4 linked regions of the Homo sapiens genome follow. The protein of the gene in region 1 interacts with the protein of each later gene in a pairwise test. Each region holds a gene or a part of one and is shown in the gene's direction. Other genes may lie near its edges.

The links.
Region 2: the proteins of TMEM140 (region 1) and TMEM205 interact in binary tests that used the Homo sapiens proteins (3 or more experiments, as listed by UniProt).
Region 3: the proteins of TMEM140 (region 1) and MGST3 interact in binary tests that used the Homo sapiens proteins (3 or more experiments, as listed by UniProt).
Region 4: the proteins of TMEM140 (region 1) and MSMO1 interact in binary tests that used the Homo sapiens proteins (3 or more experiments, as listed by UniProt).

Annotation. Positions count from the first base shown.
Region 1 is NC_000007.14:135,143,675-135,151,091, forward strand, and holds the start of TMEM140 (transmembrane protein 140), read left to right. Parts: upstream 1-4,397; 5' UTR 4,398-4,596; intron 4,597-7,417.
Region 2 is NC_000019.10:11,343,269-11,350,497, reverse strand, and holds the start of TMEM205 (transmembrane protein 205), read left to right. Parts: upstream 1-4,229; 5' UTR 4,230-4,878; coding exon 4,879-4,978; intron 4,979-5,082; coding exon 5,083-5,246; intron 5,247-7,229. Other genes in the region: CCDC159 (coiled-coil domain-containing protein 159), read right to left, coding at 299-380, 472-560, 811-844, 1,415-1,532, 3,871-3,881. UniProt on the Homo sapiens protein: In cancer cells, plays a role in resistance to the chemotherapeutic agent cisplatin.
Region 3 is NC_000001.11:165,626,905-165,634,241, forward strand, and holds the start of MGST3 (glutathione S-transferase 3, mitochondrial), read left to right. Parts: upstream 1-4,329; 5' UTR 4,330-4,389; intron 4,390-5,326; exon of another isoform or gene 5,327-5,335; coding exon of another isoform or gene 5,336-5,370; intron 5,371-7,337. UniProt on the Homo sapiens protein: Displays both glutathione S-transferase and glutathione peroxidase activities toward oxyeicosanoids, as part of cellular detoxification as well as synthesis of bioactive metabolites.
Region 4 is NC_000004.12:165,322,877-165,330,676, forward strand, and holds the start of MSMO1 (methylsterol monooxygenase 1), read left to right. Parts: upstream 1-4,792; 5' UTR 4,793-4,888; exon of another isoform or gene 4,889-5,070; intron 5,071-7,800. UniProt on the Homo sapiens protein: Catalyzes the three-step monooxygenation required for the demethylation of 4,4-dimethyl and 4alpha-methylsterols, which can be subsequently metabolized to cholesterol.

The DNA of each region.
Region 1 (7,417 bases):
TCCAGCTCTAAAACAGCACCCTGAGAAGCTTCTCACCCACTCCCCAGTGGTGGGCAGGGAGGGGAACCTGGTAGAAATATTTTTTAGAAAAACCCATTTAAAGTTTTAAAAACCATTAGGAAAATTGTCCTAAGGACATACATCAAATAAAGACATATTTATTCAGAAAATTTACTAAATTCCTGTAAGAAAAGTGAGGGTCTCTGGTACTTAGCCATGGCCCACTCCTTCCCTTCCCCCATGTTCAGCAGAAGGGAAACTCCACTGTGGGAGGATATGGCCAAGAACACTGGGATCACAGTCACTCCAGCTCCCAGTCAAGGGCTATGGTATCTCCCCTAGGAGGAGAAGGCTGCCAGCGTTTCTCATCTCCCTACCGCTGTGAAGCAGAAACAACATTTGAGGCTAATGAGGCCAAGAGGTCAGGGACTCCCTTCCTCCACTCAACCATAAGGCAAAGGTTCAGTGGGCTGGGAATACTGGATTCCTGGTCACCTTTTCTCCAGCTACTTCATAGTGTGGAGTTTCCATGCCAGGAGAGTCAAGCTGAAGTTGAAAAGACCAGAGGCTACTACGCCACTCAGGACCATGCTCAAAAAGTAGATGGGTCACTCTAGAAGATGCAAGCCACTGTCACCAACCCCAGGTCCAGAGCAGTGGCTCAGATATGTTGCCCAGAGGAGAGGCATGCCTTAAGAACAGAGAGCTCTGAAGCTGTCCTCAAGTAAACTGACTTGTTTGGAACAGAGTGTGGGGAAGTTCAAGGTTAAGAGTACTGCCAAAAACAATGGAGATTTTGACAGTAAGCAATTAAGAGGAAATGAGTAGCTTGATAAAAGCAACAAGCTCAACCATAGGCCAGCTAGGTTGCCAGAGAACCAGTGAAAGAGACAGTAAGAAATAACCCTCTTGGAGTAAAAACAAAAAAAAGAAAAAGGGAAGATAAAGAATAAGAAAGAGGCCAGGCACAGTGGCTCATGCCTGTAATCCCAGCATTCTGGGAGGCCAAGGCAGGTGAATCCCTTGAGCCCAGGAGTGTTAGACCAGCCTGGGCAACATGGCAAAACCCTATCTGTACCAAAAAATTAATAATAATAATAATATAAAAATTAGCCAGGCATAGTGGCACGCACCTGTAGTCCTAGCTACTTAGGAGGCTGAGGTGGGAGGATCACCTGAGCACAAGAGGTCAAGGCTGCAATAAGCTGTGATCGTGCCACTGCACTCCAGCCTAGGTGACAGAGAGACCCTGTCTCAAAAGAGTAAAAAAAAAAAAAAAAAAAAAAAAAAAAAAAGAAGAGGAACAAAGAAATATTTTAGACCTCCAGTTAAAAATGGCAAACTGGATACACATTCAATTTTGCTCCCTCTCAAAACCACCAAAATAATTTATTTTTTAAGGCATAAAGCTGAAAGGATGACAAGAGGAGACCATTTTGGAAGCCAGGAAGCAGAACAAATTTAAACTTCTCAACAAAACAAGAAAGCCAGACATAATGGGACAAAGCCTTCAAAATTATAAATGAAAATTATTTTTAACCTAAAATTTTATATTCAGTCTAAATTTGATCACATTTGAATAGATCAAGTTAGAATGAAGATATTTTCAGTTTTGTAAGTTCTCAAAAAATTCTCTTCAGTGTACCCATTTCTCAGGAAGTTACTGGAGATTTACTCTCCCAGAACTGAATAAATGGAGAAAGAGAAATGCCTTTGATGCAGGAAGCAGGAGATCCAACCTAGGACAGAAGTAAAGGGAATCCCCAGCATGGTGGTGATGTGAGAAGCCAGGACAACAGCTGTGTGTGGTGTCAAGCCCCAGACTGGGGCAGGTTGGAAGGGTCTGAAAAGCCTTTCTCAGGAAGATATAGAATACTTGATGCATAGAAATTTATTCATAGAAGATTTGATAAAGATTTGAGGGTTGGATTAGTGTTAAGCAATAGAAAACCAAGCAAGCAAACAAACTTTTTAAAAAAAGCAATTATCTTCAGAGAAGATCAAAAGTTATGCAGGATAGGAAAAGTAATCTTAATTTTCTACATGGCTCAGCTGCTGTAAATGGTATTTACAGGCACACCTCGGAGATATGTTGCAGGTTCTGTTCCTGACCACTGCAATAAAGCAAGTATTACAGTAAAGCAAATCACACGAATTTCTGGTTTCCCAGTGCATATAAAAGTCATGTTTATACTATAAGGTAGCCTATTTAGTGTGTGATACTGTTATGTCTAAAAAAACCTAACGGACATACCTTAATTTAGAAATACTTTGTTGCTAAATAATGCTAACAATCATCTGAACCTTTGCCTTCACAACATAAGGCCTAACATTTGGCTTATCTTTGCTTTCACAATGCCTTCCTCACTAAGCTTAATCATTTCTAGTTTCCAATTTTAAATGAAAGACATGTGACACTTCCTTTCACTTAAACACTTACAGGCCATTGTAGGGACATTAATTGGCCTAATTTCAGTATTATTGTGTCTCAGGAATAGGGAGACCTAACGTGAGAGAGAAATGGAGGAACGTCCAGTTGGTGGAGTGGTCAGAACACACGGTCAGAACACCAACACAGAGTTGGTGGAGCGGTCAGAACTGAATTATCAATTAAGTTCACCGTCATATGGGTGCGGTTCATGGCACCCCAAAACAATCACAATAGTAACATCAAAGATCACCATAACCAACATAATAATAATGAAAAAGCTTGAAATGTTGCAAAAGTTACCAAAATGTGACACAGAGACATGAAGTGAGCAAAGGCTATTGAAAAAATGGTGCCAATAGACTTGCTCGATGCAAAAATGCCACAAATCCTCAATTTGTAAAAGATGCAGGATCCACAAAGAGAGATGCACAATAAAATAAAGTATACCTGTGCATATTCCAATATTGTAAACACTGAATATTGATTTAAACAAAACTATAACCAATTTGGATAGAGGAGGAAGAGAGGAAGCATACTTCTGGAACATGCAGTGGGGAAGAAGAAAGCTAAATCTTCACCTTTTATGGTTGGGAGTCAGTAGATTATGCCTGAAACTGAAAAATCAAGAAGTACCAATCCAAGCATGTTATTTAGAGAACTGAGGTAAATGCCTAAAGAATGAGCACAGGTGAAAGTGCTTGCCTCTGAAGAGGAAGAAAGGGAGAGTGTGGGACTGCCGATTTTCGTAAGTTTTGAAAAACTGACTCTTTGAAAACTAGGTACATGATAACCTTGAATAAATTTCATAAATATAAATATGTTTCTATCTCTTCTATATCACTTCACTCACCAGTATTGAGTTTTCAGAGTAACTACTGTATATTAGTATCTAAAAGTTAATTTTCTGTCTTAAAGGCATTAATATGGATGCTAGACTAAATATACAGAAATTCCACTTTTCATAATAATAGCTACCATTACTATGGTCCCAGTATTGTACTAAGCACTTATATTATCTCCAGTCCCCAGAGCAACCATGCAAAGTAGGTACTGTTTCCATTTTACAGATAAGAAATTGATGCTCAAAGAGATTAAATAATTTGCTAGTATGTAGCAGAACTCTCTGATCTCAAAGCCTCTGTTCTTCCTTCCTCCTGGATCCCATCACCTCTTTCTAGAGTTTGCGTTTAAAAGAACTAGGGGCAGGGGGAGGGCAATGTAGCAGTTCAAATAACTCCTCCTTTGGAGGAAGGGCAAGGAAGCAGAAGAGAACCGCTGAAGGATTCAGCAATAGCACTAGGTAGCAGTCTCATGTAACCAAGTTTAACCCACAGTTGAAATTTCCAGTTGGTCATGTGAGCAACGGAAGCAATTTTTAAACTCTGGCCAGGAGCCCCAATGCTTACAAAAATAAAAGCTTTGTTCGGCTCTTATTTTGAAATAAAATAGATGTTCCAGCTGCTCCAACATGGGCCTAAACACTGCAGTGAGAATGCTCAGGACACAAAGTTTTGTGTCCAGAGAAGCCCAGTCATCATTACAAAATTGATCTCTAAAAGGGGTTGGGGGACAGACGGCATAGCTGCTTCCCAAGGAAATGAGTAGGAGGTGACCTGGGTCCTGACTGCCACACTGGCTGGGAGCTTGGACCAGATGATCCTGATGGGTTTCTTCTGAATAAAATTCCGGGTTGTGTTTATCTTGCAGTTTAAATCACTGGGAGCTTCGAGAGTTCTTTGGCTCCTTCCCTTTCTGGAATTATTGTGTGATATAATCAAGACATTTACCTGGCTCTTTAAATCAGTTGGTTTGCCGGCTACAGTGTAGGTAAAGAGTATGTCATAATGGACAATAAAAAGTTGTTTACATACCTCATTTCTGAAAAGTCATGGGCCACTGGCAAGTTAGGAAACGAAAGTGAAATCAGCTGATAGTGACATCAGTCAGAACAAATGTACCAAAGTTCAGAGAGCTGTTTACTAGGCACGACTGCGAAGGCAAGGGGGCACCAGCTCAGGACTGCATCTGCCTGCCATTTCCCTTCCACTCCTCCTTTCTGGAGTCTGACATTAGAAAGCCAGCGAGAAGGAAGATTCAAACAACCAACCCTGATTTCCTGCTTCTCCTTTTCATGAGTGTTCCTGTGGTCTCTGCACCTCCTTTCTGTAAGTACCGATCCTGCAAGCATCACAGCTTACCCAGACGTCTACTACCTTGTAAGACAATTTTGTTTTCTTCTCAGATATTTCATGTTCTGGCAATCCACATAGGGGAACTCACTGGTTGTTCAGTATCTGTGACCCTCCCTCGCTCATGTCTGTATAATCTACATAATCTACCCCCTTTACTCTCTGCTCTCCTTCCTTCCACTCTTCGGCATCAACATGTGTAGCTCTGGCCTCAAAGATGATGAAAGTAAGGCCAGTATAACTGGTTAGAAACGATGCAGGGCTGACTGCACACAGCAGAGTCTTGCACGCAGTGTGTACAAGGACATGGCTGTGGCTTGTGCAATACACTGTTCATCAGAAATAGGTAAACAAAAGCAGGTCACCGACCAACACTAACTAAACCACTATTCAATGGTAGTTACGAACACATCATAAAACTTTAAAATACACACTGAAGATTAATATCAACAGAAAAACTTGTGTTCTTGCCTCAAAGAATGGGACCTAAGAGATGTTTAGATCTTATGTTAGTCATTAGACCAGATTGCTCCTCATGCCCCAGTGGAAATCCATGGTGGTATTTTAGTTCTCTTGATGCATATTTTAAGAGATTTTTTTTAATGTGGGCTTAGTTTCACTAATAACTTCCACTATGCTTCTTCGCCTATAAAATCAAAGGCTCCTTTGAAAGAGGGAAAAGACACATATTTCCTTCTTCCCTCATGATAACTGAAGAGCATTTTTCAGTATCCACTTACCATACCCCATTCCCCAAAATCTCAGGTCTGAGACTCAGTCCATGAGATATTTTTTCAATCTTGCACATATTCCCCTTTCTCAACTTTCTTTCCAGCTTAGTCCCTGCTTTATCTAATTACTAAGGCTGTTTTGAATGCCTGTTTTATAAATTTCTTTTTTTTTCATAAATGTAGCACATAATTCTAAAAATATTTTACTGCAAATAGAGAACAATTGCCTGTAATGTCACCACCCAGAGCTACCACAGCTAACATTAACATTTTCAAATACTTCTTTAGTCTCTTTCTCCTATGCCTCTTTATATGGATGTAGTCACACTATGTAGAGTGATTTTATACCTGCTTTTTCTAAAAGATGCATAGTATTTTATCCTTGATACATCATAGTTTACTTCTGATATTGGACTTTCAAGCTGCTTCCCATTTTGTGCCAAAAGTAATGCTGTGCTGAACATTCCTATGTATAAATTATTGACTGGATTTCTGATTGCTGTCTTAGGATAGATTTATAAAAGTGGGCCAAAGAGATATGACTATTTTTAGGGTTTTTAATGTTTATTGCCAATCTGCCTCCCTGAAAGTTTGTACAAATGTTCACATCCACCATCATTGTGTGAGAATGCCAGTTTAACCATATTTTTGGTATCATCAAGTGTTTTTACCTACAGTGTTGATAGGGAAACTCTGGTTTTTTACTTGGCGTATCTTTAATTACATTAGAAAAGTTACAGAATTTTTTTTCATGTTAGTTAACTACTTTGCATTCTTTGTGAATTATCTCTTCATATTTGTCCATTTTTAATGAGGTGTAATGTTTTTTGACAGTTTGCGTAAACATTTTAAACATTAAGTACATTAATCATTTCATAGTTGTGGTAGATATTTTCCATGCTCATTGACTTTTAATTATATTTATGTTGTTTTTGGTGAATAGAAATCTTTATTTTAGAATAGTTAAACCTGTGCAATTCTTTATTTGTAGTTTCCATTTGCTCTTAAGTTCCAAATTTTATTTTTCACTCATAAATCAAATATATCCTTTTTTCCAGATCATTGATTTTTTTATCTGGTTTTACCTTTCACTCTTGGATCCATGTGAAATTTATTTGGGTATGTGGAGTGAGATGAGGACCTAAAATAGTTTTGTTTCTCTTTTCTAGTTAGCTGATCAATTGCTTCAGTATTAGTTAATGAAGAACCCTTTCAGGACTCAAAACAAATATCTCTTCTGAAGAGAGGCTTTCCCTGACCCTATAATCTAGTCATCACTTCCTCCTGCCAGTTTCTCTCTCTCACTCACCCTGTTTATTTCTTTCCCAAACCTTTTCAAAAATTATAATTACCTTTTAAAAAATACATTTGGTGTTTGCCTTCCCAACTAGAGTACAAGCTCAATGAGAGCAGGCACCTGGTTTGTCCTGTGTGGCACTGATTCCCCAGGGCCTCTGATTCAGGGAGTCATCCAAAATGTGTCACTAACAGAGTTACAAGATGAAATGCTGACCCCACGAGTCGAAGTGGGTGGCAAATTGCCTTTGTAATTGCGGAAGAGAGGGCTGGTGCGGGAAAACTAACCATTGACAGCCAAAGGCAGTCACCAGTTTCTGGTACTACTGATTCTCAAACTCTGAATCTTGTGAATCTTGGCCGCCCACAAACTGGACCGTGGAGTCCTGCCAACAGAAACCAAATGAGATTAGCTGGACGTGGTGGCAGGAGGCTGAGGCAGGTGAATTTCTTGAACCCGGGAGGCAGAGATTGCAGTGAGCCAAGATGGTGCCACTGCATTCCACCCTGGGTGACAGAGCAAGACTGTCTCAAACAAACAAACAAATTAAGATGGCTCATTTGTAGACATTTTCTCATTTTTAAGGATTTTCTTCTCCCTCTAAACTTTTTGTAATCTTTGTTCCCACTTGGATTATCTGCTAGTGAGAGCTAATAGTCAACAAAACAATTGCACAAATAGCAAGTTAATATTAATGGAACCATTTAAACAGCTATCTCAATGGCTTGTCATCTGGGTGCCTGGACTCATGCTTCTGACTTTATGTTAT
Region 2 (7,229 bases), on another chromosome or scaffold:
TATTGTTAGTAGAGATGGGGTTTCACCATATTGGCCAGGCTGGTCTCGAACTCCTGACCTCAGGTGATCCACCTGCCTCAGCCTCCCAAAGTGCTGGGATTACAGCCATGAGTGACAGCACCTGGCTTTTTTTTTTTTTTTTTTTAAGTAGATATGGGGTTTCACCATGTTGTCCAGGCTGGTCTCAAACTCCTGACCTCAAGTGATCCAACCTCTTTGGCCTCCCCAAATGCTGGGATTACAGGCGTGAGCCACCACGCCTGGCCTAGCCTGACCTTGATCTCTGGTCAGTCCTCACCTTCAAGCTGCTGAATCTTGATTTGCTGCAAGCAGCTCTCCTTCTCCAACATGGTCACTGAGTGGTTCAGGAACTCGAAAGCCTGGGGGAAAGAGGTCAGCCTTGGGGTGGGAGGAAGGAGGGGAGGGCAAGGAGAAACAGAGGTTGCTGGGGGCAGGGCCAAGGTGGTTCACCTTGGTCTGGGCCTGTAACTGGCTCTTGAGTGACTCAAGTTCACATCGCAGGAGCTTCTGGGAGTCGGGAATCATCACAATGGTCTTGGCTGTGGGCAGAGAAGAGGGTGAGCCAGGGCTGTAAGGGGTGGGGTCTGGGGCAAGGGCAGGGCAGAGGTCAGCAAAGGCTCAGAGTAGCAGTAGGGACAGGGGATAAGATATAGAACAGGGGCCCACTCAGCCTTGGGCAGGAGTGAATGGGTGACCATGGCAGGGGGACAGCTGATGCTGGGGCAGAGGGTAGAGGTAGAAACCAGCAGGTCTTCCCCACACAGTTTTGTTGGAAAGGAGATTTCTCACCTTTGACTTTGGAAGAGCTGGTCTCCAAGGGCTTCTAAGGAAGAGAGATGAGATGGGAGTAGAAATTTGTCCCTGAGCTGCCTCCTTGCTCACCTCAACCCAGTTTTGAGGGCTGGACAAGAGTTGGATCTCCTCAGTTCTAGGTGTCCCAAACCGTAAGTGCAGGCAAAGCTGCACTCCAGGCATATTCATGCACCTCCCCCTTGGGCTACATATGCTCAGAAGTGCACTTATGTGGCTGAGAGACGATCACAGCCAAATCCCCATGGAAGACACACAACCACACTCTTTCCTTCCATTCATTCCTTCATCCATTCATTTAAGACTTGCTTAGCCAGGGCCTGCTGAGTGCCAGGTGCTGTTCTAGGTGCTGAAGAAACACAGTGGGTGCATTCATGGGAGTCTCTCTGCCTTACAGCCCCTTCCCTAAGCCCCACAGCAGTAGATTGCAGTGGTTTTCTGCATTGAAGGGGTTTCCCGGGTGGGGGTGACCTTAGCTACGTTGTGATGCCTCTTCAAAATGTCCTGGTCATTACAGCACTGCTTCTGCAGGTCTGGACTGGGGGAGGGGGCAGCCTCATGTGGCGAAGGCCCTGAGCCCCACCCTGGCCTGCAGTCTGCAGTCCTCACTGTGTCCCCAGAAGCAGGGCATCCCAAGGTCTCTGGCTCTGGAGTCCTGGACCAGTGAGCTGTACGCTCCAGAGCCTTGTCCGAGGAAGAGCCTAGGGGTGAGGGCTTCCTTGAGGGACAGTGCAGGGCACTCCTCACATTCCCAGCCCCTCCCAGTGTCCCCAGCCCTATGGGAGCCCCCTAACTAACCCCAGTACTTGTCACACTTCATGTTAGCAGGCAAACACATGCTGGAGGGTGAGGGAGGTGAGTAGAGGCAGGACACAGAGTAGTCAGGGTCCCGGGGTAGGCCGGCCAAAAGAGGGTCGCTGTGAGTAGGGAAGCAGGGGCTGCTTTGAGATAAGTCCCCATGTCCCCAGTGCCCCCAGACCCTCCCTGACATGCCAGAGAGGCCTCAGCCCTAAACTCAAGGCTTCTCAGTTATGGTAGGAGCCAAAGCTGGATAAAAGATGATCCCAAGGCCAGACGCGGCCAGCAATGGTGGCTCACGCCTGTAATCCTAGCACTTTGGGAGGCCAAGGCGGGAGGATCACTTGAGGTCAGGAGTTCGAGACCAGCGTGGCCAATATGGTGAAACCCCGTCTCTACTAAAAATACAAAAACTAGCTGGGCATGGTGGTGGGCGCCTGTAATCCCAGCTACTCGGGAGGCTGAGGCAGGAGAATCACTTGAACCCGGGAGGCGGAGGTGGCAGTGAGCCGAGATTGCACCACTGCACTCCAGCCTCAGCAACAGAGTGAGACTCAGTCTCCAAAAATAAAAAACAACAACAAAAAAGATTATCCCAGCCCCAAGGTTTGGGCTGGGCAGTGAGAAGGACCCAGAAGGCCCCAAAGAAAAAAAATCAGGCCTCAGAAGAGTCCAAAGAAAAAAGGGACCTTGACATTGGCTTAAAGGAAGGCCTTTCCTGGCAGGGAGCAGCATGTGCAAAAGCTTGGAGGTGTGGAATCACATGCTCTATGCTGGTAAATTCATGATGGCTGAATCGAGGTCCGAGAGGAAGCAGCAGGAGGTTAGCAGAGCAGCTCCAGTAAGGCATTGACGGCCAAGCCAGGAGTTTCGACCTGGCCCCACAGGTGAATGCCAGCCATAGAGTGTGAGCAGGAGAGGCAGGGCATATCTGTTCAATAAATGTTAGCTGAATTGGGGCCCAGACCCGTGCTAGAAGAGGCTGGAAACAGGAAACAGCTGAGCTCTGGGTCTCACATTCAACTCCCCTCCCCCTCCAGTATAGCCACATATGGCACAGATGGAGATATCTGGGGCAGGTCTGCCTGGAGAAACTTCTAGGTGAAAGGCACCTTGCCCTGAGTCACACTCAGCCTCTTCCCCCAAATCCTCTAGACCTTTCTCTCTGTCACCCTTGCCAGGCCCTCTGCCTGATTCAGTCGACCTGGAAGACTCCTACACGCTCTTCAGAACTACTCAGGCTGGGCACGGTGGCTAACACCTGTAATCCTAGCACTTTGGGAGGCCAAGGCAGGTGGATCACCTGAGGTCAGGAGTTCGAGACCAGCCTGGCCAACATGGAGAAACCCCATCTCTACTAAAAATACAAAATTAGCCAGGCGTGGTGGCGCATGCCTGTAATCTCAGCTACTTGGAAGGGTGAGGCAGGAGAGTCGCTTGAACCTCAGAGGCGGAGGTTGCAGTGAGCCGATATCATGCCACTGTGCTCCAGCCCGGGCAACGAGAGCGAAACTCCGTCTCAAACACAAACAGACAAACAAAAACTATTCAGCATATCTTCAGTAAAATCTTCCTTAATCCTTTTTTAGGCTCCTATTTTCTGAGCACCTAATTGAGTGCCGGGCATCCCCTAAGCATTCACTGGATCTTCACACCCACCCTGTGATGTACACGTTTTTCTTCTGCCTGAAATGTCCTAAGCTGCCCCTCCGAGAGTCACTGCCTCAGGGAGGTCCTCACTTCCAGGGACAGCAGAGTATGACGGTTAAGCAGGGAAACTCTCCAGCTAGATGGCCTGGGTTCAAATCCTAGCTCTGTCCCTTCCAGCTGTGTAATACTGGTCGCGTTACTGAACCTCTCCATGCCTCAGTGTCCCCAACTATAAAAACGAGATGTCATAATAGTCACCTTACTGGGATGTTGTGATTAGATAAATTAATCCATGCCAGTGCCTGGTATAGAGTAATGGGGAGCTGTGTTTGCTCTGGAATGTCACGCTGAGAACCCGGGACTTAGGGACCATAGGAAGCCTGGGAGGCTTGGAGGGGAAAAGGAGAGGCATTTGAGAACCAGCTTAGGTCCCCAGTAGTGCCTCCTCTCTCCCCGTCCCATCCCGGTTGCTGCTTCCGTGTCCCTCCCGGGAGAATTATTTAGGGAGGGGGCGGGGTCATCATCCTGGCTCCGCCCCCTGGGTTGTGAAATCTACACCCGCCAGGCTCCAGAACCCCACCTACCACATACCACCTGTTCATGCTCTCCCATCAGGGACCACGAAGCCAGTCCTCAGCTGTGACGCTGAAGTTTGATCCCGCGGGGACACCATCGTATTAAAACGCTCAGAGACTGAGTCACAGAGAGGGGTGTGGCCGGCATTTTAGTTCCGCCCCTGCCGGAGTAGCCGAAGGCCTCATTGGCGCCTTCACGCTTCAGCTGCGCTTAGTAGCCGCGGCGTAATTGGATAAAAGCCCGTGGAGGGGGCGGGATCCCAGGGGGGTTTCTACGATTAGTCAATACCCAGGAGGGCGGGATAGAAAGGTGCAGATCTACGACCCGATTGGCTTCGGGCTCAGCTGGGAGGCGGGACGAATTATTGGTTGGGGGAAACCCACGAGGGGACGCGGCCGAGGAGGGTCGCTGTCCACCCGGGGGCGTGGGAGTGAGGTACCAGATTCAGCCCATTTGGCCCCGACGCCTCTGTTCTCGGAATCCGGGTGCTGCGGATTGAGGTCCCGGTTCCTAACGGTGGGATCGGTGTCCTCGGGATGAGATTTGGCGTTTCCTCGGGGCTTTGGTGGGATCGGTGTCCTCAGGATGAGATTTAGGGTTTCCTCGGGGCTTTCGGGATCTTCACCTAATATCCGGTATTATTTTATGAGAGGAGTGGTCTTGGCTGTCAGAACTGGATCCCTGGGGTGATATTTGGGAATTAGTGGAGTGATCTCTGAAGACCTAGGGCTATGATCTGGAGCTGCTGTGGCTGAAATTTGGGGCCTCTGAAGTGGCATGGAGATTGAGGTCCAGAGAGCCTGAGATCTTGAGGGCTGACATTTGGAGAGATGGGGTCGAGGGTTGTCTTTGGGCCTTGACTGCTTTGGGCCTTTCTCACTCTCATTCCCGGGATGCTTTGCCAGAATCTCTGCTGGATTGGCCGTAACCCTGTCCCCGAGCGGGCTCACAGGGTCTGAAGGCCACGCATGAGGCAAAGGTAAAGTTCTGAGCCACCCGGTGCCTCCTTCCCAGGACTGCAAGATGGAGGAAGGCGGGAACCTAGGAGGCCTGATTAAGATGGTCCATCTACTGGTCTTGTCAGGTGCCTGGGGCATGCAAATGTGGGTGACCTTCGTCTCAGGTAGGGACCCTCAGCTTGGATGTCATGGGTACCTGGGGTGGGGATGGAAATAAGAGGGGAACCGGGAAGTGCCCTAACACCCCTGTGGTCCCCATACCCTGCAGGCTTCCTGCTTTTCCGAAGCCTTCCCCGACATACCTTCGGACTAGTGCAGAGCAAACTCTTCCCCTTCTACTTCCACATCTCCATGGGCTGTGCCTTCATCAACCTCTGCATCTTGGCTTCACAGCATGCTTGGGCTCAGCTCACATTCTGGGAGGCCAGCCAGGTACGTGGGTTTGAGTGCCACTGCCCTCTGGAGACTTGTTCCCAGGACCTCAGTCAGCGCCTATGGCTACACCTTTTCCAGGGGGGGAAAAAAAAAGGCTAGGCATGGTGGCTCACGCCTGTAATCCCAACACTTTGGGAGGCCGAGGTGGGCGGATCACGAGGTCAGGAGTTCAAGACCAGCCTGACCAACATGGTGAAACCCCGTCTCTACTAAAAATACAAAAAAATTAGCCAGGCGTGGTGGTGTGCACCTGTAATTCCAGCTACTCAGGAGGCTGAGGCAGGAGAATTGCTTGAACCGAGGAGGCAGAGGTTGCAGTGAGCCGAGATCATGCCATTGCACTCCAGCCAGGGCGACAAAGCAAGACTCCATCTCAAAAAAAAAAAAAAAAAGGAAAGGAAAGGAGAGGAGAGGAAAGGAGAGGGGAGGGAAGAGGAAGGGAGGGGAGGGGAGCCCCTTCTTCCTGGTAGATACAAAGCTGGGCTCTGGATACCCTTGAGCAGTGCACAGCCTGTACAACAGTCCCCAGCAGCCCTGTCTATCCCCCAGCATCTCCCTGCTAGCTGCTGTTCCCTCTCCTCCCGCTGGCTGGGCCTGCTGCCAAGCTGTGGTGACTCAGCTGAGCTGGCACATTGACCCCAGCTTATTGTTTAAAAACCAGCCCGACTGGGAATTTATGGTTTCCTATCCCCTTCCACACATTTTTCTGGCCACAAGGCAAGAAACTATCTCTGCATCTCAGATTTCTCTATTTACTCTGGCCTTCCCTTGCCTGCATTATGTTTCATAGACGTGGGTAAGTGAGACCTGACAGGTGTTTCAAGAATAATCTCACAGACAGGAGGGGATTATGGGTAACTAGAACTTCACAGACTGTTTTTTTTTCCTTTTATTTATTTATTTTAATGAAACAGGCTCAGAAGGTATTCAAATACTTAAAACAGATAGAGATGGTGTTATAGCAATGTGAGAATGGCAAAAACATTTTTCCTAATTAAAAAAAATAGGCTGGGCGCAGTGGCTCATGCCTGTAATCCCAGCACTTTGGGAGGCTGAGGTGGGTGGATCACGAGGTCAGGAGCGCGAGACCATCCTGGCTAACATGGTGAAACCCCGTCTCTACTAAAAATACAAAAATTAGCTGGGTGTGGTGGTGTGCGCCTGTAATCCCAGCTATTTGGGAGGCTGAGGCAGGAGAATTGCTTGAACCCAGGAGGCGGAGATTGCAGTGGGCCAAGGTCACGCCATTGCACTCCAGCCTGGGCAACAAGAGTGAAACTCAGTCTCAAAAAAAAAAAAAAAAAAAAAGATGAGGGTCTTTGCTGTGTTGTTCAGGCTGGTCTTGAACTCCTGGCTTCAAGTGATGCTCCCACCCCCATCTCTGAAAGCACCGGGATTACAGATTACAGGCATGAGCCACCATGCCTGCCTTCAAAGACTTTTTGTTTTGTTTTGTTTGTTTTTGAGACAGGGTCTTGCTCTGTCGCCCAGGCTGCAGTGCAGTGGTGCAATCTTGGCTCACTGCAACCTCTCCTTCCCGGGTTCAAGCAATCCTCATGCCTCAGCCTCCTGAGTAGCTGGGATTACAGGGGGACAGCCCCCACACCTGGCTAATTTTTGTATTTTTAGTAGAGACGGGGTTTTGCCCATGTTGCCCAGGCTGTCCTTGAACTCCTGGCCTCAAGTGATCCACTCACCTCAGCCTCCCAAAGTGCTGGGACTATAGGCATGAGCCACTGCGCCCAGCCACTCAAAGACTTTTTATTCACCCTCTGTGGGTCCAATGTCAGCTTCAGGCGTCTGGGCTGTGGCCACTGAGGAAAGAGATCCTGCTCTGGGGACTTCCAGTCTGAGTATCAGAGGAGAAGAGGCTCGGGAGGTTTTGCGGGGGGATAGAGGAGGTGGGGATGGAGCCTTTCCTTCAGAGCTGCCAGTTTCAGAGTAGAAGAGCTGGAGTTCTGCTTTGGGTCCCTCAGTCTG
Region 3 (7,337 bases), on another chromosome or scaffold:
TCACAGTTAGGCTGGAGGTACAGGCTTCATAAAAAGGCCAAGAAGTCAGAGAGTTCCAGATGGCTAGGCAACGGAAAGAAGTCACATATGTATTCATTTCACAAATAGCTACCGAGTGTCTGTGATGGTTAATACTGAGTGTCAACTTGACTGGATTGAAGGATGCAATATTGATCCTGGGTGTGCCTGTGAGGGTGTTGCCAAAGGAGATTAACATTTGAGTCAGTGGGCTGGGGAACGCAGACCCACCCTTAATTGGGTGGGCACCATCTAACCAGCTGCCAGTGAATATGAAGCAGGCAGAAAAATGTGAAGAGACGAGACAGGCCTAGCCGCCCAGTCTACATCTTTCTCCCCTGCTGGATGTTTCCTGCCCTTGAACATCGGACTCCAAGTTCTTCAGTTTTGGGACTCAGACTGGGTCTCCTCTCCTTGCTCCTCAGCTTGCAGCCAGCCTATTGTTGGACCTTGTGATCGTGTAAGTTAATACTTAATAAACTCCCCTAGTTCTGTCCCTCTAAGAGAACCCTGACTAATACAGTGTCTACTGTATGCCAGGCATTTAAGAGCAATAGGGATACAGCAATAAACAGACTATATCTCCATTTTCATGTAACTTACTACTGAGTAGGAAAGCCAGATAATAAAACAAATGTTAATTAAATCAAAAATACAAAAGGGTAGTAAATTTTACTTATTACCAAAAATGGTAGTAAATAAAACAAGGAAGGGGAATAAGGAGTTCCTTGAGAAGAGGGAGGCTGTAATTTTTAACGGAGTAATCAGAAAAGACTGAGAGAGATCTGGTCTTCCCACTGCTGCCACCATAATGAATGGAGATCTCCAAATGTCCCCATGTTGTTGTTAATTTCCTCAAGAATCGGAGGCCTGGGAGCAAGCATCTGATTGGCAAAGCTGAAGGCACATGCCCACCCCCTTAGTTCCTCTGAAGTGAGGGAGAGGGAGAATTGGCCTTTTAACTTTTTTACAGTAGGTACCTACTTTCAAACAACATATTTTAAAATAAGGGATTTTCCTTAAAAAAAGAAGGGCATTTTGACTCTAGACAACCAAAATATTCACAGAAACGGGGGAAATTGTTAAGGGAGAGTCAAAGAAACGACTCATAGAAGAATGAGGGGGAAAAATAGAGGCTAGCACTCTGGAGAGCCTTGAACACATTTTAAGAGGTAGGGAGACAAAAAGGGACCAGGAAAGGAGGCAACAAAGAAAACAATCATGACATAGCAATGTCTGAGAATCCAAGGATAGAGAGCGTTTACAAGGCAAATGGTGACCTTTGAGAGAGCAGTGTGAGATGACGTTTGGAAGCAGAAGCCAGATTGTAAATGGAGAAGGAATTAATGGTGACTGAAGTTAAGTACAGACTAACTTCTGAGCAAGTGTTACATATCCATAATTTATATTGTTGTAATAGTGTTGTGGAATCAGGAGGACCAGAGAGAGGCCTTGGGGTATATACATAAGGATATCTTTATTGAGTGCACTCAGACCCAGCAGACTTAACATCCAAAGACCGGGCCCAGAACAAAGACAGCACTTGACTTTTATACACACCTCAAAAAGGGGTGTGGACCAGCCTGAAGCCGGCTTACAGTGGCATGAAAGCAGGGATACAGAGGCAGGACAAAGACAGTTAATTAAACTGTAACAGGTTCATAACTCAGGATTACACATGACCATTGCTATGCAACCCAGATGTCCATTATCTAGGTTTGCCTAGTGCCTAGCACGGCTTATTCCATGACCTTCACTATAGCGTCCAGGTGGCCTGCTCAGACAGTTTATGACCTTCACTCTACTGCTTAGATAAAACAGAATACCTGAAGTCACCAGTTACAGAGAACAGGAATTTTCATAAACTCATACCATAAAACAAAGGAAAATTTGTTTTTCTTCTCCCTATGTGGAGGGAGTGCTGGGAGAGTCTCCAGAGCACATTCCTTTGTGTCCTGGCTCCTTAGATAGTATTATCAAGACTTTCCCTGGGTCTGGGCTGTGCCCATTGCTGCCTCTGGAACAAGTCAGCCTAATACAGGAAAACTTACTTCTCTTTTTAATTTTTTCTTTAACTTCCCACCTCAATAGGACTTGCAAAATATATTATCCTGAGACAAAAGGGCAGGACTTTTGTGTAGCACTTTGTCCTCACTTCACTTGAACTTCACAATAACTTTGTGAGAAAGGTCTTATTCCCCTTTAGAGAGATGGAAGAAAATGATATCCAATATCCAGTGTGGGAGAGGACTGTAACTCTCTTCCTGGAGTGCATCTTATTGACAGAGATCAAAACCTAGAAATTCCTCTGCAAAGGAATTCAGTGAAAAAAAGAAATCATAAGCACGTACACAGATTTATCTACAAGATTGTACACTGCAATAGGAAAGAAGTGAAAGCAAGCTAACTCCAGCAAGAGGATTGGTACATCCATGCTATGAAAAGACATGCACTGATTGCCAAATAATGTTGCAGCATGAACCGTTCAAGAAATGAAAAGCGTCCTACATGAAAAAAATACACTGAGTGCATGACAGGAGTTTTCTAGTCCACAACATACTTAGGTTCCCAGTTGCAAATCAATAAAGTGACACTCTGGTTTATGTATCAAAAGAAAAGAAAAAGAAATGAAAAGCAAAAAAAGGGTTTACATTTTATGAAGTGAACAGAGCAGACCACAAAACAGAATATACAGTATGATTCTATTGTGTGTGTATGTAATTTTTTTGTGGGCTTTTCTGTATCTCCGAAAATTCTAATATAAAGGAATACTGCTTTTGTAATAAGATTTTTAAAAGAAGGTCCTCAGTGGTTAAGTACTTGTCTGTGGTCAGAGATAACTGGCAAAGAAGAGGCCAAATTTTTTTTGAGACTGCAGTCTCCGGTGTAAAATGAGGGTGCAAGGTGCATCCCCGCTCCTGATTTTTGAATCATCCCTTCCACCACCTTGGAATGACTTCTTACGTAGAACAGCCAGCAAGTGGAGAAACTTGCCTCAATAATGCAAAACTGTCTCCCTAACTTACTTCCTTTCAATGTTCAAGCAAAACAAAGCCCTCTCTACATCCAACATGACAGAAACCCAACATGACAGAAAGTATGAGAATGGTTGGAAATTGCTGAAACAGCAACAGTAAAGATTTAATGAGCTCTCAAAGTACCTCTAGATGTGCAAATATGACAACCCAATAAAAAGAAACACACACATAACCTAGAGCCTTCAAAAATCTAGATTTCTGCCTTTCCACACCTTAACTTGGAATCATTCAGGTGGGTTCCTAAGCATTCTCTCGGAGGTGAGGAATCCTCCAAAGAGGAGACTCTAGGAGGGGCCCAGGTGTGGCAATCTTCAAAAGGATGAGGGATGTCCAGAGGAGAGGTGGCGGGAGGGTGCACTTAAAACACGCGAAAATTGGAAACGTGCCTTCTGCAGTCAGTTCCTTCGGATTTTCCGGCATTTAGAAGCCAGTTCTACTCCTTCAGCCCGACCGTATCTGCAGGTCTCACCCAAGACCAAGACCCCCGCCCCCACCCCTCCTCCACCCGGCCTCGAGCCCCGCCCCGGACGCTGGACCCGAGCGTAACGGGAGCAGGTGTTCACATCAAAGGTCTGGGTCGCGAAGGCAGAGACTCCATGTGCCGCAAAAAAAACTCCACGGACAATTGGGAGACTCCTTTCAAAAAAACAAAACTCCGGAGCCACGCGACTCCGCGCTCAGGGGGCGTGGGTACGGCCCACCACGAGGGCAGGGCTCGGCGCCAGCTCTCGGCAAAACTAACAATATTTGTTAGGCCCTAAACAAAAAGGCCCTAACAGCGATAAATCCATTCACTTCGGGAGTGTAGCAACCTGGGACACCAAGCGCCGCCCACGCCCCAGCTACGCGCCTCAGGGACACATCGATTGAGGCGCGGCTACTTTCGCGCACGCGCCTTGCATGCCCGTGCTTCGCCCTTACAGCAGAGCGCCTAAAACCGCTACGGTGGCTCTGCTGGGGACAAATTATTCACGTCCCACTGTTCTGCAAACCCAATCCGGGAGGTATGACCTGGCTGGGACAGTTTAGGAAGATGGCCACGAAGGCACCTGGGGGAGTAGATATATGTTTTTGAGAATGAGAGGAGTAAATCGCTGGACGACCATGAGCAGGAAGAAAATTAGGCCTCCACCTCCCAACCAGTGGCCCTGAGTTGGCAACTTAGACAGCGCGCGCCAGCGCCAGGAGCCCCGCCTTGGGGGCGTGGCCGCGCGCTGGTCGGCTGGGGCGGGGCCTGCTTCTGGCCTCATCTAGCCCCGCCCCAGGCGAGGGCGCCGCACCCACACCGCGCTGCGCAGTTTTGTTCTGCTCCAGCTGTTCGAAGGTGATCCAGGTGAGTGCTAGCACCTGCGGGCAGCCACGAGCACCGGGCCGCCGGGGGCACTTCAGCCTTTGCGCAGGGCACTCCCATATTTCAGCCTATGCGAGCTGAATAGAGACCCGCTGTCTCTAACCTCCCCCCACCCTTATCAGTAAATTAGCGATCTGAATTTCCACCCTCTCTGCTCTCCCCTTGCCTTGCATCTTTTCCCTGGTGGAGTGGGTTGGGAGCGTCTAAGCGAGGCCCGACCTATTTATGTGTAACTCAGGAAAATTCTCAAGGTCAACCCTTCCTCCATTCCTTCCTTTCCTCTCCTGCTGTCCCCGGGCTCTGCAGTCTGGGGGCACCTTTCTGCCTTCCGGAGACCACCCGACCTTGCCCTCTGCTGTTCCGGCGCAGAGGATGGCGAGCCGGACACTGCCGGGGGAGTGGTTGTGCAGGCCTGATCAGTAACACTGGTTTCAGAAGTGGCCTGTGAGCAATGCACCCGCTGCGGTGGGGATGTGTTGCTAGGGACGGTCGGGAGAGCCTCTGAAGGAATTGTGTTTGTTTTCCTCCTGCCTCTTAGAATCGTTTGTCCATTTGTACTGGGAAGGTGGTCATTTCCTACCGCTGACTTAGAGCAAGAGACGCCTCTAGGCGGGTGGGGGACTCTTCAGGTTCTTCCTTGGATTTCAGAAAATGCCCCTTCTTTATGTGGGGTGGCAGCACGGAGCCGTAGGGCTACAGTAGTGGGGCAGTTGCAGGGCGGTGGAAGGCGCTGGAGACTCCTTAGTGAGTCATTCCCCGAAGTTGTGGCTTCTGCTGATACTTTCCTTGAGAGTCACGAGTTTACAAGCTACATAATAGCGTCGGGGGCAAGTAAGTGTGGAAGACGAGGTAAAGGAAAAGCAGATACTAGGATGGGTAGAAGGAGAGGCAGGGGTTAGAACTTTAATTCCTTCCCTGGGGACAGGAGATGCCCTGGAGGGGAAGGCGCTTCCGGCTCTGCAGGTATGTGCTGTTGGGCCTAGGTGTGGTCCTGCGGAATTGCTGCAGATTTTAGATTGCTGGTGGGTAGGAGCTGCAGCGCTTCTCTTGGGAAATCTGTAGATCACCTGGAGCCAGCAGTTCTGGGAGGCACCCCAGGTTATTGGTCAGAGTTACAGGCTATATTTTATTTCAGTGAATTCAGAGAGCACATTGAGTCAGATCAAGAATGTTTATTCTCATAGGAGATGAATTTAAGGAGTTAAAACTAACATATAAAATAGAAACAAATACTTTCATCCCTGGGAAGACTTTCCGTTAAGCTTCCCTCCTGACACAATGTTACGGAAATAGAAAACTTTGTCAAGTGATTTTTTTTAACCAATGTTACTATATATAAATCTGCAGGGAGACTGTCGCCAACTATAGAAACTGCGCTACAGGGGCCTCCTTAGATTAAGGAACAAAACTGGAGAAGGGCAGCCTTCCGCTTTATTTAGATTTCTTCCTGTTGGCTTAGAGTTCTGAAAAGACACAATCCTGGAAGAGATCCTCCTCGCCTGGAGATTAGCACCGAGAAGGAACATACAGGAAAGAAGGGCTTTACCCACTATTCAGAGAAATGCTAAAAAGCCCCTGGAGCAGTCTGGAATGAGGTGGATGTCAAATCAATCTGTCAAAAGCAATTCAGTGCCTACTGCACATCTATCTGTATTTAAACATATTGTGCCCTATGTTTATACTTAAATCTTCTGAATCTATATTTAGAACACCATTACCGACCACAATTGACCATGAACCATCTAGCATTTTAAAGCAATATTTGTTTCGAAGAATATACTGCTACGGTTTTTGCAGCTCAATTTATTAATGCTACTGTAAGCTTACCATCTTCCTGAACAAAAAATTTAGCAGTTAGCAGCAAGTAGATTATCGCTATGTAAAATAAAATTCCTGAGTTTCTGTCACTCGCTCTTACAGTACCTACCTGCCTACCTGCCTCTGAGGAGAAACGCTGTAATTAGGCAACAGGAAAATTGTACTATCTTTCAAATGCATTTGCAAATGCCTTTAAGGATTTTATCCTTTAGAATCATAGATCTTGCTGTTACCTTCTGAGTTATTTCTAGAGTTGATCTGTTCATTAACTGGAACTTGCGTTCTACGATTTAGTTGCCTTATTTCCACCCTTCATTTTTTTTTATTTTTTTAAAGCAAAAATTAATTTTTTTATTTTTTTATTCCACCCTTTAAAAATAAGTAAGTGATATTTTATTTTATAAATAAATGAGCAAGCAATGGGAGCGGTTGTACCACAGCTTCATTCTAAGTGTAGACAGGCATGAAAAGGTCGAACCCCTGTTTCAGGCAAAAGCCAGCAGCCTAGGTGGTTCCTTCCTTTGGGGTGGTTGGTACCCTAACGGGCATTCAGCAGCTGCTACAAATTAACTACAGTCTGCCTGCATTTCTTGTAATAGAAAATTACCAAGTGGTGTCAATGTGACTCATTCGAGATTTTTTTTTTTCCTTCTGGAAGTCATAGCTTAGTTTCTCAATGACTCTTGGTTCCTATGTAATGCCAGTTAAGGGACAGCTATATGACATGATATATAAATGAAGTGCCAGTTTCTGTGTTACTTTGCTCCTTGCAAACCTATATGCCTGAAAGATTGGAGGAAGTTTTTTCCTTCTCGTAATCTCTACTTCTTTTGTCATACTGCAGTGCTGACACTCATTAAAAAGAAAACATTCCTTGTTTGGAACTTTCCCAAAGTTTTTTTTTTTTTTTTTTCTCCTTCCAATTTGAAACATCTCAGGCTTTAGTCAGTGGCAAAATTGAAGTTAATTGTTTGCTCTCTCTTCTTGTTAATGTATTTTGTACTCAGGAGAGGGTCTGGGGACATAGAAATGTTTCAAAAGATGTCAGGTGTGGTCAAACTTGCTTTTCAACCTCATTGAGAGACAATATAGCAAAAGGCTGAGAGCACAAA
Region 4 (7,800 bases), on another chromosome or scaffold:
TTTTTTTCTTAAATTAACACTTTGGCATGAACATTACTGCAGGTTTTTGATGAATATAATGAATGTATGGAATTCAATTGAATTTGCATGGTCTTCGGAATTTTTTCTGTGTGTATAAATTTAGCTGCTATTAACAGAAGAGAGAACTTTCTGTGAGTAGCCATGTGTGTTGATCAGATACAGTTTTTCTGAGATCTTCAATTAATCTCACTTTAAAAATGACCAAAACATGTCTTTCTTGAATTAACTTTGAATAAAAGTTTGTATATTATTTGTTTCACAGTGTTCTTGATTTTTATCTATTTAGTTTTGTGTTAAAGTTTCCTGTTAGTTTTTTTGCTCTTTTATAGTTTGCATTTTGTCACTTCACAAATCTGCATTTTTAATTTATTGCCAAAGTGACCTCACCTACAAGACAAAACTATTAAATGAATAACCGAAGTCAATAAAAATGGTTCTGTTTCCAAGGAAAAGTAACTTCAACTATCAAGGAGAGGTCTGTCAAGGATTGGTAAAATTTAAACCTTTTATATTTTTGTGTCCCTGATATGGGTAGGGCATGAGATAAGGATAAAACAAGTAGTATTAGACCAAAAGGAAAGTCAAAGAAAAAAAATACCTACTCCAAAGTAACTGAGAAATAAACTGTGGTTTTGATACCAAATAAAAGGAATTGAGGAAATAGGAATAGTGGAGTCAGGTAGGCAGCTGAGGTGCTGGACACAGCAGAGGAAGGGAAGAGGGGGAAGGAGGAGGTGATGGGATATTGTGACCATTCCTCAGGAATTAAAAAAGTTGGCATGAGCTGTTGCTAGACCAGTTGATAATCAAGAGGAAAGATTGCTATGATAACATTTCGATTCAAATTTAAACATGGAACCACATTTAATACTTAGTTGAACTTTCCATTATAAATGAATTTAATCAGAAAAAGCCTATGCTCAGTTGATGAAAACATGAATTTCTGCCTTACAGCACATCATTGTCAACAAACATATTGAAGGTCTAATGAACTTGGAGTAGTCAGCTGTTTCTGACAGAGGCACCAAGAAAAATGTATGAGGTCTCTGTCTGTCCTGATCACTTCCAAACACTAATGTTCTATATGAATCTATCAATTAAAGATTTATCTGAAAAATCTTAAAGCTTTTCTTAAAATATAATCTCAGCCTATTAAAGTAACAAAGACTTAACTACATAGCATGTCAAATACCTCTATCTTTACTTTCTTAATCTTTGAAGCTTTAATAGCTATACTATAATTGCCAAGGTTTGTCAGTAGCTGGATTCATAGCTATGATTTCAGAGACTTTAGACATACCTCCTTCCCCCATGCCAACCTTTGTCTTTCCAGTTTGAAATTTTTTTAAAGGCATATGGAAGTGTTCTCAGCCTGTTCCATTGTTGTATGAAAAATAAGAAGGCAGAGAGGTGTCTTAGAAATCCTGCCAAGGAAGCAGCCCCACGTTTGAGCAGAGTTCAAGGCTGGATCCACATACCTGCGTTGTGAAGCAACTCGTCTGCCTGCTTTGTTGGGATCTATGCCTCCTTGGCTGAAAGCAGTGATGACTGTGGTTAAGGCGGAAGGTGTATTTACTGTCAGAAGACTATCAGTTCTTTCCCTGTTTCTTATGGAGTCTGGTGTATGATTCCTGGTATTTATTATCTCTTTATCGTTCCTTACAGCATAAGAACCCAGGTATTTGTAATCCTAACTGCTGTTGCGTTATGAGACTTAACTTTATGAGGTGTAAAAGGGTCACATGAAATTACATAGCAGTGTGCTGACACCATCTTGGTTTAGTTTTGTCTTAAGCACACTGCCTCCTACTGACTTCCATGGCTGCCAGTGTCTCATTTTGGAGAGGAGGCTACGCTGGAGAATGGAACTATATTTTGAGTCAAGATTCTGGGGTTCTAATCCTGGCTTTAAGGAAAAAAGCCATGTGGTATATTGGAAAGCCCATGGGCATAGAAACAAAAGGGTTCTGGGTTTGCAGCTCCCTCTATCAATTGCTAGCTGTGACTTTCAACACATTACTTAACCTCTAATCCTTATTTTGTTTTTAAAATGGCAATAGGAGTGTCTGTGTCACAAGGTTGTTGCGTTTGAAAGAAATGATGCATGTTAATATGCTTGAAATCCAGCGGGCCCTCAATAAATTACAGCTATTGTTCCCTGAGCCCCCTGTTAATCTTCATTGTAGGGAAATAAGTGAGTTGAGCTGCTGCATCAGCATTTTTTTCCAGCTCTAAGCCTTTAAGGTTTAAAATAATCTGACCCCTCCATACACCTACACCTGCTCTGATTTAGAAAATGTAATACTGTGGTAGAATTCCAAATCAGAAATAATTGCTGACATTTACTGATCATATCTTGTATGCCAGAGACTGTGCAAAGGGCTTTACATACGTTATCTCATGTAATCATCATAAATAACTCTTCGAGGTGTAGGTATTATTATTTCACAGAAGTACCAGATAAGACAGAGAAGTAACTTATCCACTGCTAATAAAATGCCAAGCCTAGTAAGTGTGGCCCGATAGTGTGTGCTATTGATGCTCACCTGATAGAGGATGGCAGGTTTGGGCAGAGAGAAAAGTTGGGTGGCAGTGCAGTCATCACACAACCAATAGGATGGGGAGCTCTGGAGCTGGGATGGCCAAGCAAAGTAGCCCTACATTGGTTTAGGGGATTTTATACCCGTTTCAACCAGTTACTTGACTAGCTGTTGCCTAGAAAGGGGGTATACCCGTGGGGAGAGGTGCTTCTCTTTGGCAGTACTCAGCAGCTGGAGGAATGCCTGCTTAGGTCTTGAAGAGGGGGATCTGGGTGGTGTGCCACAGCATCCACTACAGGACCAACAGATTCATATGCCCACTGCACAGTATACACTGAGACAGCAGGGTTTGCAGAAGAGAAAGAGTTTAGTGATGGCAGGGTGCCGAGAGGAGATGGGAGGAAACCCTCAAATTCATCTCTCTGAGGAGTTCTGTGCTGGGGCTTTTAAGGGGATCCTGGAGGGCAATGGGCTGGAAAATTAGGGTCCTCGATTGGCTGGGGTAAGGAGGAATGAAACCATCAGGATGTGGGAACTGCATTCTTTGGTGAGTCAGCTCCTTGTCAGACCAGCTGAGTCAGTAGTTTCATCAGTACGAAGGACCTGAAAGGTTATCTCAAAGCACAAACTTAACGTTTCATAATGTTCAAGTTGTTGTCTATAGAGCAGTTAGGGGAAACTATAACCTTGTAACAGAGTCTACATGATTCTGAAGCAATAGGCAAACAATTATGAGGAAGGGGTCAGACAGCAAGCTGACCTAATTATTAATCCTCAGTGTGCTGCAAGCTTGGTTTAATTTCGTTCCCCCCACCCCTTTTTCCCAGATTAACTTCATAAAGTATATAGGCATGGTTTCAGACACCACTGTAAAGGCATCCTAAAGACAGGGCTGACTCTGACAACCAAGGGACAGATCCCATTTCTTTTCATTTGACGTGACCGCTGTCATGATACTTTACAAAGAATGTGTGTGCCAAACATGAGGGATAGACGAATAAGTACAGGTCACACTGAATCTAAAAAAGACACTTTTCAAGAGGGAACTTCCTCAAGGAGATAGTACCTGAATTGATGGGGCGGCATGGAGATGGCTGATTATTCCAGGCAGAAGGGCCAGTTTGAGCAAAAGCATGGAGGAATGAAACAATAGTATTCTGTTTTCAGAAGCTGTATATATTTGACACAATATACACATAATCAAAACATGTGTACGCCGTAAACACAATTTTTGTCAATTATACCTTAATAAAGAAGGAGGAAAAAGGGCCTTCACTAGCCCAAATGATGCCCCTGTGCGGTTTTTTCTTTAAAGGCACCTCTTCCGTTAAGTGAAAGTTTTAGTATATTATCACATCTGTACAGTTTTATTATTAAACCCCAGTACACAATATTTTAATGTTGAGAGATGGTGTAAACTGAGCTTTAGAGCTGCAAAGACCTGCGTCAAGCCCCCGCCCCCGCCCCCGCCCCCGGGCACTCATCGTCCAGCACAACAATTGCAACAACACCTGGGCGTTCTCTGCCCATGTAGCGAGGTCAAGGTCCTGGGAGCCGAACTCTCCCTTGATGTTCAATCTTTTTAAATCTTTCCCAGCCTTTATTTCTCATCTGCAAAATGACGATAATCGCATTTGAAATTCTCCGTTTTCAAAATGCAGGAATTTATTAAAGGATACGTAGGCTGGGGAAACAAGGGAGACGAAAGATCTAAATCTAAATGGTAGACCAGAAAAAGGAAGGCAAGGGTGTCTGGAAACACAAAACAGTCAACATAGATTTTAAGACTCATCTATACTCTCTTCTTCCCGGGTTTGGGAACTGCGGTTGCTACACAGGTCACATTTGAAATAAAAGTCCTGGGACGGCGGCCGGCGCGACACTCTCCCCCGCACAGCGCAGGCTCTCACTGGGAATCTGCCGGGACCGCAGTTGCCAAGGCGACTCCGCGCTGCAGGGCGAGGCGGCCATCCGTCTGTGCCCGCCCCCTCACGCCGTGGCGCGCTCTCACGCTTCCCCGCCTCCGGGCGCTCCGCGGTGCCGACCATTGGCTGGCTCTGCAGGTCTCACTATCCTCACTCCATCCGCGGAGCCAATGGCTGGGACCGCCAGGAGCTCGTTCGCGCGAGTCACACGATGTCGGCAACTGCACAGACCAATCACCGCGCCGAGAAGGCGGGGCGGGAGCTCTCGCAGGCCAATAACGACAGGACGGGCCGCCTGGCCCACCCGGCTCCACCCCCAAGCCAGGCGAGGCAGGTTCCGAGGTTGGAACACCTGGCGAGTCCTCGGTGTCGGTGGCCGGCAGTCATCTCGCGGCCGTTCAGGTGAGGGGGTTGGAGGAGTGGCTCATGAGCGAGGAAGGGGGAGCAGGCGGGCTCCCACCCGGTGCTCCGTGAGATCGAGGGGAGCGGGTTCTGGGTGCGGATGCACGCGCTGGGCGGGACGCTGGCAGTGGTACCCGAGACGGGGCGGAAGGAGACTGGAGTGAAGGTGGGCCTAGGCTAAGGTACGTGCTAGAAAGGATGAAAACGGAGTGAAATTCTTAAGTGATGGAACTAGGCTAGGGCATGTTTCTTGCCCTTTAAAATGTGTTGTCTTCGGGAGACAGGACGTAGAAGATAGTTGCAGCACAGGGTGATAGGCTGGCGAAAGTTATACAAAAGCAGGAACCACTAGAAGGAGGTAAGATGTAGTGTGCTTTGGGAGTAGTGGGGTTGGGAAGGGCGTCCGAGAGGAGGTTACTGAAGGATGACTAGGAGTTGAATGGGAGGACATCACCTGTAAGGGAACGATATTTCCGTGGGCAGAGAGGAATGAAGCAGTAGCAACCATGAGTGATCAGATACTGCAAAAATGTGAAGTGTAGGATGGCGAGAATGTAAGAAATGAAGAGTGAAGAAGTCTGGAAGGGCCTCGTGTGCATCAATCACAGCGGGGCTTGATCTTTATGCTTAGGGCAAGCACTCCCTTGAACTTTGAGTGTTTTAAGGAGGTTATCTCTGATGTTTAAATTTATATAGATCGTGGCATTGCATCTTAGAAATAAGGTTTAGGAAGGGCAAGCTTGGAGGCAGGGCAAGTCCAGAAAATGAAGGAGCTGGTGAAATCCGTGTTAAAGTGCCAAAGGACAGAGACTGGCTGACAGCTAAACTTCAAGGTTTCTGAGAATCCACAAATAACTAAATTTATCTAGTCAACCTGTTCCAGAACAGGCTTCCAGTCATTTAGGTTGCCCAAGAATGAGTAAAGGAAAAGGAAATTCAATTTTCCAAGACCTTGTTTCCCCTCTCCTCTTTAATTCCTTGTTCGGTTAGCAACAGTATATCCATTCCCTCGCTCCTTTGTGAAAAGTAAATTCCTGAATGTTAACTAAACCAAGTGTTTCTAAATTGGGTAAGAGTTTGAAGACTTAAGGCAGCAGAATGGGAGAGACTTAAAACGTTATGTCTGAGAATTAGGCATTAAAGGAGGCCTAGTATTTGGGCGGGGGTTGTGAGGAGCACATACTGAACCTTTGGACCTGTTGAGTGAGTTCATGTGCCTCTGAACTCTCTGACTGGATATGACCAGTAAACTTGGATAATTAGATCCTGGAGTTTAGGGGAGAGGGCTAGAGATAGAGATGATGGATGTCAGCATATTTTTAAAACAGAAAATAGTTAAGATCACCCAAGACAATCTGGAATCGTTAGAAGGGAGTAAGGAAGGCATTATTGGGAAACTTTCCAGCTTCAATTCTCATATTTTTTCTAATCTCCTGGTTGAGTCTTTGGAGTTGCTGTTCTCTCTATGCAAAACCCCTCCCTTGACCCTCTCTCCCTCACTCTATTTTTTAATTTGTCACCTCCTTCTCCTGTTCTAGGTCTCAGTTTAGATAGCACCTTTCTCTAGAAGTTCATAGCACTGTGTATTCCCCCCTTTATTGTTCTTATCACATAATTTTTGATGGTTTGGACACTAGTTGTTATTCCTCACTAAATTTTATGTTTTATGAACTCAGGGGTAAGGGCACCAGCTAGCACAATGAATGCACAATACTTGTCAGAGTGAATGCATTTAAGTTCCAAGAACCAAGGAAAGGCGGTATTTCAAGAAGAGAAGTATCAAATCTTCCAGATTAGTCAAATAAACTCCAAAAAAAAAAAAAAAGGTTTATTGGATTTGGCAGCTGGAGATCCATAGCGATTTTTTTTTTTTTTTTTTTTTTTTTTTGAGACGGAGTCTCACTCTGTCGCCCAGGCTGGAATGCAGTGTCGTGATCTCTGCTCGCTGCAACCTCAGCCTCCCGGGTTCAAGCAATTCTCCTGCCTCAGCCTCCCCAGTAGGTGGAATTACAGGCATACGCCACCACACCCGGCTAATTTTTTTGTATTTTTTTGGTGGAGATGTTTCACCATATTGGCCAGACTGGTCTGGAACTCCTGACCTTGTGATCCGCCCACCTCAGCCTCCCAAAGTGCTGGGATTACCAGCGTAAGCCACCACACCCAGCCTCCTTAGTGATTTTAGTAAGAGTAAGTTCAGTGCAGTGATGACAATAGAATGCAGATTGCAGTTGCTAGAATATAAACAGGAAATAAGAAGATAAAGACAACTCGTGGAATACCTTTTCATAGAGCTTAGGTAAACTGTAGGAATTATTCTCCTTGTACTCTAATACTTATTATGGGTTTTATTTATAATTATAGTGTAATATAATGGATGAGTGCATGGGCTTCCCCACTTAGCATTTGTTAAGCATTAACTTAACATTAAGCATTAGACTTTGGGCAAGTTGCTTAATCTTTCTAAACCTCAGTTATTTTATCTATAAAATGGTGATAAAATAATACCTACCTCACGAAGGTGTGGTAAGGATTAAAGTGAAAATGTAGAGAGCAGGTAGCATGCTTTGAACACAGTTCTTGGCACAGAAAGTGCCCAATAATTGTTAGTTTCTTGTAGCTATTACATGCCAGGTCCTGTGCTAACTAAGCGCTTTATATGCATTGTCTCTTGGACTCATTGGAAGACCTACTGTTTTAATTTTTGCTGCTGATAAAACTGCATCACAGAGAGGTTACCTAATTTGCCCAAGGTCACAGGACAGGACTAGTAAGTGGTCTTGGTTCATTATTGTCAAATTTACTAATCACCTTGAGAAAAATTAAGATTGGATGGTTGCCTTATTTTACAACTTAGAAGATGATTGAAGACATTTTGGTGCAGGTGGGGAGCCAGATTGCAAGTAGCTCAG